Regions from separate parts of the Homo sapiens genome. Here region 2 is linked to region 1. Evidence: fine-mapped expression QTL. A gene starts in region 1. The other region holds a variant in brackets. All regions are shown on one strand. Distances are from middle to middle. Region 1 holds the start of EPM2A (EPM2A glucan phosphatase, laforin). Region 2 has its middle 190 kb from the start of EPM2A-DT.

What was found. PIP is the estimated chance that this variant, and not a neighbour inherited with it, causes the effect. A credible set is the group of variants that fine-mapping cannot tell apart.
Region 2: its variant is the best candidate, but not a certain one, in a credible set for the expression of EPM2A in Th2 cells (Schmiedel 2018, PIP 0.70).

The regions. Positions count from the first base shown.
Region 1 is chr6:145,733,107-145,737,505 of GRCh38, reverse strand. It overlaps EPM2A (EPM2A glucan phosphatase, laforin), which reads left to right and starts at 1,986. Exons shown (of 4, transcript NM_005670.4): 1 at 1,986-2,308. The coding sequence starts at 2,008. EPM2A-DT (EPM2A divergent transcript) reads right to left here and starts at 2,637. Exons shown (of 3, transcript NR_038246.1): 1 at 2,586-2,637. RefSeq lists enhancers at 1,572-1,621, 1,642-1,691, 1,702-1,761 and a silencer at 1,922-2,511.
Region 2 is chr6:145,539,347-145,543,745 of GRCh38, reverse strand. It overlaps a transcript of EPM2A not described here. Among named protein-coding and RNA genes, the nearest start is that of EPM2A-DT, 190 kb to the left of the region's middle. The variant G/T (reference allele first, on the strand shown) is at 1,817.

The sequences.
Region 1 (4,399 bases):
ATGGATATTATCATGGTTAATACTTATACATCCAAATGACTGACCGTCAAAATATGATCAAGGCCTTGATATATGTCCCTTAAGCCCTATTTTGGTCTTGTTCTCCTTTCCAGTTGCATTTTACTTACTACACAGTGCAGCTATCCAATTTATACCTTATTTAAATCCTTGCCATAAAATAAGCTATTACAAATTTTGTTTAGGGGCTTAAGAGGGTTACTTCTTCCAATGGTTAAAATTATTTCAACCTCTTTATGATGAAAGAAGAGTAAAGGAAACAATGTCCGTTGAGCAAAGATATTGTTTAATTTTTCCGCTACTGTTTCTTCTACAGAATGGGCAGAACTCACTCTGGAAGAGCTGGTGGGAATAATGCCATTTGGGAAGCACACAACATAGGCAGCACAGTGGAGCACAAGAAAGTCCGGAGCTGTTAGCTCCCAGGTCCTGAAGGAATGAGAACTTTCACCGGAGTCTGGATTCCACTGTAGACAAAATCCTCTCTGCATCGCCAAATGACTCTTATTTTCCTAAACTTACTCTAAGAATATCTTTTAACAGCAATTTGAATAAACCGACTCACATGCCACTGTGATTTAATGTGTGATTTGCTGCCGAATCAGCTGTGTTTGGCCAGCCCTTCTGTCTTCACATTTTTCATAGTGTTTATCCTTAAGCTTAGCAACCAACCAAACTTCGAGTGGAATATCAACATTCAAGAGTAAAATGTATTATTAGTTTTCTAATTGTTCCACAAGAGATTGAGTTTGTGTAGTTTACATTTTTGCACTTTCTGTTTTACTTATATCCTCAACGCATGAAATTTTGGCCTGTTCCCCTTTACTATTCACAAACTTCCAAACACTGGTAAAAATGCCTTTGTGTGTCTTTAATTCACGTAACAGATTTGTGTTATGTTAAATGTTAGTGAATATATAAACCTAAGAATACAAGGATAATTTTGTTAAAGAATCAAAAAGTATCAGGACATTCGTTTGTCTTATGGCAGAGACAAATTGAAGTTCCCCACCAAGATATACGTATTTTGGATTTGGGCCAGACAGCTAAAAAACCTGTTTCAACTTAAAACCCAAAAAGGTTTTAAGTTGAAAAAATAATGCTGACTTTTGCTGAAAGTAAATTTTAAACAAAGGTTTTTTTTTTTAATTTACTCCATTAAAAATGCATACATTTGGACAGAGCGAGACTCTGTCTCAAAAAAAAAAAAAAAAGCATACATTTGTAGTCACAGAATTAGTTTTTGTTTTGACCTTGAAAAGGACTTGAAAGTATTTACTCCAAACTTACTTTACACATACTAAAAATATAGTTTTTGAAAAAAGAAAGTTGATGTGGCTTTTCAGACAAGGGAATGGTAGGTAATGTTTTGCATCAGCTCCGGGTCTTGGGTGATCTCCACCAATCAGAGATCCTTCAGAGCTCGTAGGGTCTAGAAAGATCATTATTTTACACCCTCATTTTACAGACAAAGAACCTGAGACCTGCTAGAGTAAGTGACTTGGTTAAGATAGGGAGCGCTCCAGAGACCAGGTCCAAGATCTTCCCCCGTTTCACAATTAGAAGGCGGCTGTCTAGAGGTCATTCCCTTCCTTATGATCCTCATAAAGTTAATTTCCAGTCTCTTGGAGAGAGAACTGGACGATCGCCTGGCTTAGAAGTTTTCCTCCCTCCCCGAACCCCGTTTTCTCTTCCATTTCTTCCGGTCGCGTGTCCCCAGCGCCCACAGGTGGAAATCAACCGCCCGCGGGGTTGCGGGGCACAAAGAGGCAGCTAGCGGCTCCGCTGACCCCTTCCCGCCGGCCTGGACGAAGTCTGGGCTCGGGAGCCGCGTGATGCATCCCAAAGAAGGCGCAGAACAGCACGTGTTCTCCCCGGTGCCCGGGGCTCCCACACCACCGCCCAATCGCTGCGGCCGCCTAGTGCTCGGGCCGCGCCTGCCGGCCGCGGGGACTCCGGGCCCGGGTATTCGCGCCGCCGCCGCCCGCCATGCGCTTCCGCTTTGGGGTGGTGGTGCCACCCGCCGTGGCCGGCGCCCGGCCGGAGCTGCTGGTGGTGGGGTCGCGGCCCGAGCTGGGGCGTTGGGAGCCGCGCGGTGCCGTCCGCCTGAGGCCGGCCGGCACCGCGGCGGGCGACGGGGCCCTGGCCCTGCAGGAGCCGGGCCTGTGGCTCGGGGAGGTGGAGCTGGCGGCCGAGGAGGCGGCGCAGGACGGGGCGGAGCCGGGCCGCGTGGACACGTTCTGGTACAAGTTCCTGAAGCGGGAGCCGGGAGGAGAGCTCTCCTGGGAAGGTATTGCCAGCAGACGCCTGCCCCCGGCGCAGAGCGGGAGCTCCGGCCCGCACCCCCAACCGGGGCCTCGGCCTCGGGCAGGCCCCGCAGGCCCCGGCGGCGCGCGTCCCGGGCTTTTTGCCCGCGTCCCTGCGCACTCCCCGGGCGACCTGGGCTGACCCTGCTCTGCCGGCCACGCTGTCGCCGCCAGCCGCGCCTCCGGCTTCCTACTGATTCCCTAGACCCGTATAGCGCTCCCGGCCGCCTTCCCGCCCACTCTGTTGCCTGCCCCTCTGACCTGGTTTCCGCACATCCAGTCCTCAGCTTCTTTCCAACCGCGCCTGCGTCACGGGCCAGTGCCCTTCGTCTCCCGCCCGGGGCTCCCTTCGCCCTCCGAGTGCCCCTCGACCTCCGAGTCCCCCCCTTCGCGGGTCCCTTGGCTGCCCGGCCGCGCGCCGCTGATGGCTTCAACAGCCCAACTCCGCCTTGGTTGGGTTTTGTGTCCTCATTTTCCTGCTCTAATTCACTAAAAAAAACCCAAAACGATCCAACCAACGAAACTAGCGTTTTCGCTAATCCTAGACAGCAATGTGCTACTTAGATTTTTTTCATAGATATTGAGAATGAACTAATGGAAAAACGTTGAATATTTCCCTTTTTGGATTTTTTTTTCTTTTTTAATCCCAGATATATGACAATTGAGACATGACCTGATTTCTTAAAATACTAAAACAATACATGCTGGTTGTAAAATAATAATAAAGAAATGTACATAGTGAAAACTTACAGTGTTTCCTCCACACATCTTAAGCACACTGCTTGTACACATTTATGTATGTGATATATGCATATACTTTTTTTTTTTACAAAAATTGTATAGTAATTCTGAATTTTTGCTTTTCTTGCCTAACAATATGTTAGGGACATCTTTCACTGTCACTACACGTAGATATGTATTTTACATGTAGATGTATATTTTAAATGGCAACAAATTATTCTGCATCTACCAATGTGCATTTAGGTTCTTTTCAGTTTTCCTCTGTCGTAAACAGTAGTGGCTTAATTGAAATTCCTTTTACAGATATCTTTGAACATTCGGGAGTGTTTCTGCAGAGTGGATTCAAAGAAGTGAAATTATTAGGTCAAAATGCAGTCATTTTTTTTAACACTTCATTAAAGACTGCTAAATTATGCCCTAAAAGGGTGATTATCTAATGTCGGCTCCCGCCAACAGTGTCTGAATTGAGACAGCTCCTTTCTTTAAAGGAAATGTGCAAGGTTGTAGACTGGAGTGGGTGTGACTCAATAGTTGAAGTCAATGAAATGAATGTCTCTTTAGAAGTTTATATGAAAAAAAAAATGGGCCATTTAGCCTGTAATGATGTAGAAACAAAGAATCAGTAAAGAAGATTAGAGTGGAATGTGTTTATATATTATCCTTGTTCTCCTTCTCTACCTCACTGGGCTTATGGTCTGGTAGCATTTATTGGTCTGTTATTTTACCATGACAGAATTGAAAGATACCCTCTTCAGTTTATCCTTTCTTTACAGAGTATTACTATTTTTCATAGTATTGTAGAATTATTTTTTAAAATAATATCTGATAATTGTAATAAAAATGGAAATGGTGTGAAACAAAGATCTTCCCTTTCCCTAGTTATTTAGCTTTTCTGATAGTCCTCCCTATGCCGTTAATAGTTTGCTTATGTTGCTATTTCTTAAGGTACCACAAACTTTTGTTTTTAATTTTTCTAATAGTTACCATATAAGTTATATATAATTTTAAAAGTTAAAATTAGGCAATAGATATTGACACCTACTGGATGCTCATAAAATTAACCATCACACTTGTTATGAAATATGAGGAATTTAGCTCAAGTTCACTCTCTGTCTTCCCTGCTGATTTTTTTTTACTATTATTTTCAGTTTTTTTGATAAATATTTTTCTTTACTATCCAAGCAGGAATTATTTTCAGTTTTGTATTAAAAATTGACTGTTGACTTTCTAGGAAGTTACTCCTATAAGAGAGGATAAGAAAAATATTACAATTTCTTCCTGTCTCACTTTGGTTTATTATGACTTTTACATTATCAAGTTTTATATAATTTATA
Region 2 (4,399 bases), 190 kb after region 1:
GAAAATCTACAATCCATGTAATCAATACAGTCAATGTCTTAGTATTCAGGAGTTGCCTGGAATATATTCTTAATATCCACATTTCTCCCATATCCTGAAGAAACCCCTTCTTTGATGAAAAACTAAATATAAAACAAATACTTTTTTTTCTTTAAATTATTAAAGACCCTGTTTTGATAGAAAAAGCAGGTGATTTGGAACCAGTAAACTTTATTTTTTTTTCTAGTTCTACCAAAATTAATTGTATGGCCTTGGGCAAGTCGTTTAATGTTTCTGAGCTGCAGAATTCTCATCTGGAAAATGAGAAGGTTTTTTGGGTGACTTCCATCAAGACCTTTTTTGACAAGAGGCTATGTTCTCCATTCTATGGTTTGGCGTTGACACTGGCCTAGATTTATTATTTTTATAATGCTATTTTTGCTTGTGTAGACACCTTTCTGGATTCACTAATCATTCTTTGAACTGATGGTAATTTATTTTGACTGTATTGATTACTGTAAGTGCCATTCATTCTTCGTGATTAAGAAAAAAAAAGAGCATCCTTTGCTTCTATTCTGTTTATATCTTTTTTAAGGCCATATTGCTCATCTTTTTAATCTCATAAATCTAATATAGCAATGAGAATTGGTGAGAAATGCAAACATAATGAACAAAACAAAATACAAAAACGAAAGGAAGCTGGCTGTGTGCAGTGGCTCACACCTGTAATCTGTAATCCCAGCACTTTGGGAGGCTGAGGTTGGTGGATCACCTGAGGTCAAGATTTCGAGACCCACCTGACCAACATGGAGAAACCCCGTCTCTACTAAAAATACAACAATTAGCTGGGAGTAGTGGCAAGTGCCTGTAATCCCAGCTACGCGGGAGGCTGAGACAAGAGAATCACTTGAACCCAGGAGGCAGAGGTTGCGGTGAGCCGAGATTGCACCATTGTACTCCAGCCTGGGCAACAAGAGTGAGACTCCTTCTCAAAAACAAAACAAAACAAAACCAAAAACAGAAAAAAACAGAAGGAAGCAAACAAACTAACAAAAAATAAAGCCAAGTATCATAGACTAAAGAATCCAAAACAACATTTGACTGTCCAGAGGGGACTAACAAGGGTCCCTGGCTTCAATTACCTACCAAATGACATCAGGTGAATATGCTCTAATTGGCTTTATGAAAAGTATTTCATTCCCTGACTATTTTTGGCTTTCAGTAAAATGTCTTTGCCTCAGCAGTTGACTTTGTTATATTCCAACATCTTCTCATACTATTTTCACCTGCATATGTTTTTTAAGCTGCCCCTTTCCTGGACATCTTGAAGGACACTTCAGTCAGAATTGAAGATGACTTTGTATAGCCCCCAATCCAGGATGCATGACTGTTCACTCATCGCTGAAATCCACTTGTCCACCAGGAAAAGGCAAGCTGTGTCAGCATGCCATAACTTTCTTTTTGAAGAGGAAGAAGAGATGAATCTGTCCAGTTGTTATGGCAAAGGGAATTTAGAAAGGTGGATGCAAGCATCCCACATGAAATTTGGGAAGCAGAGAAAAAAGATGGCCTTCTGATCTTTAACAGTGCTTTTCATGGTGAAGAAATATTCAGAAGCTTTAGTGCCTATATGCTCGTGAAGACATAGACTTTTGACTTTCTAACTCAATGTTTTCCTTTCAGTTATGTTTTATATTGTAGTCTGATAATGTTTTCTACTAATTGCACATTGGTCTCCAATTCCTTTCAAACAATTCTATGCTTTATTTGAGAAGCCTTGCCTCTTTTTTTTTTAAGCATCATCTCCTCATATGTAAAAGTGAGGTTTTAAAAAAAA[G/T]GTAAGAAAAATTATCCAAAAATCGACATATTACTTGGAAATGTATAATGTTCTGCTATATAATTTTCTGTGCCTTTCAAGGTACAGAAATCAATCAGAGTTCTATGTCATTTGGGCGGATTCCTGTGCACAAGAATTTTTCATAATATATCAAAATTAAAGATACTCATGTTAATTTGTCTCATATCTGCCTCTGGAGGATCCTCATCATTTTATGGCCATCATTGCAAGTATATTCTTCATTCTGCTTCATTCAGTCATTAAAAACATCTCTTTAGTATCCACAATATGACAGATAACCGTGCCAATGCTGAGAATACAAAGATGAAAATTCAGGAATTCTTGACTCGTTTTGACACCTTCAATTGGCAACTTTGGAAGCATTTGTTGAAAATGAGGTAATGTACTTACAAAATCATTAATTTTTTTAAAGTTGAACAACATAGATTGTTTACATACAAATTTGCTTTGAGAAAATTTCAGCTTGCTGGGTAAAAATAACCCAAAGTATTTTCATTTATTTAAATGGCTTACCATTAATGATTTATTCCAATATAGAACACCGATCATATATATATATATACACACACACATATATATACACATATATATGTATATACACACACACACAAATTGGTGTTTTTTATATATATACACACACATATATAATTATATATGTATGTATGTTATATAATTATATATTTACACATATACTTGGTACACACACACACACACACACACACACACACACAGATATATATATTCCCAAATAGTTAAAAAGTTATTTTTAGTTCTTGATTAAACTGTTTTCATACATGCTTTTTTCTGGGTCACAAGACATCTGCTCACATCTTTAAAATTAGGGGGAAAATGGAATGCGTGCATGTATGTGTGTGCATGTGTGTATGTTAAAGAGTATTGCATCCTCACATACAATTGAAAAGGCTGCCAGTTCTGCCAGTTATAGGCCAAAATTTATATTTGGCTTTGAATTACTCATTCATTTTGTGATGAATCAGAGATGAGAACAGATTTAGCATAATTATAGTTACTCAATATTTTAATACATCCTTTTAAATGGAAATGGAAGGTAATTTCTATCATATACACCTGTCCTCTAAGTAATTTAAATTTTGAAGTGATTTTAGGACTCTGAATTTACCACGCCCCTAGTTTTTGATCTTTTTCATTTTTGTAAAATGTTTGAAATTTGTTTTCTGAAATGCGTCTTTACTAGTAAAAGACAAATTTCCCTAAAAAGCAAAGTATTTTATTCTTTACTTATCACTGAGTTCAGTTCAAACTTGACCAGAAGTCTAGGATTGGAGATTCATGCTTTGGTTCAGAGCTGAAAATGTGCAACGGTAAGATCCTTTCCTGCTCTAGGATTCTAACATACATATGAGAATCCCTGGTGTCATGAAAAAAATTTGTTGAGGTTGTTATTGGGTTAGCGATTCACACCAAGTAACAGGGGAAGGGAGGTGAGTAGTGCTGAGGGGAAGCAAAGATAACTTCTTCAGAACCAAGTATGGGGTCTTCTTCCCTCTCAGGGGTTAAAGTAATTTTGGCTCAACCCAAGCTGAGATCTGAGAATTCAGAACTCTTTCACAGCATCAGTAACTTCCAATGTATTCTTTCCTTGTAGTTTCCTTTCAGTTTTTTTCCACCAGTGTTTTAAAGTTCAGTTTATTAATAGAAAGTTTGAGATACAGCAAGGGCAACAGATCAGGAGACAATTGTCATTGAAAAGATAGTTTGTTGCTCACTGTTCTCAAGAGGAGGGGGCATGGTGCCATGGGGGCCACAGGAGAAGCACCAGGGTCAGGCTGGAGGCAGACACGGCGGGGGTCACTTTAGGCAAGAGCCTTTATTGTGGTTTCTGCTGGAAGAAACAGCCAAGGCAGGATAAAATGGTGAAGGATTGTCTAGTTTGAATAATTCCAGGCTCTGAGTCATAGTAGCTGTTTCGAGTTGCCTAATCCCTGGCCCTGGGATGTTTAAGGTGGGTGGATAGTGGCCCAGAGCCTGACAAGAAAGGTAGTTTGGAGGTGTGGACCATGGATTGTTTGGTCCTTTGAAAGGTGTACTTAGGGGTGAATTGTTTACTATCCCTAGGAATTGGCTAACCCTGGGAGAGGTAGCCCTTCAGGATCAGCAAGACCCCATACATCAAAGCATCAAAATACGGAAAACAAAAAGTCATGGTTAATACAATTAAGTTTGACTTTTTATCTTGTTTCTTCTTTGGACTGGGACCAAAACTATAGTCCCTTCATCAATTTTCATATAAGTTCCAATCACAGTGAGAGTTTTGGTAGTTTAGGCTTGAAGTGTTTTGGAAAGACATAAGGAATTATAAACAATGATGGACATTCTCTCCTTTTCTGTCTTTCTCTAGCTCTGTTCTCCCTCTCCAGTGCAACCAACAAATTCTCCTCCTTATCGCTGGCAGGGCAAATCCTTACATTTAGGCCCTCCAAGGTCATAGCTTCTACTACAGCTAGGAGTTTCAAGTAATTTTTTGAGCATTGGTGGATCTCTTCTCTGTACAATGAATGCTACTGTCAACTTCTAAAAAAT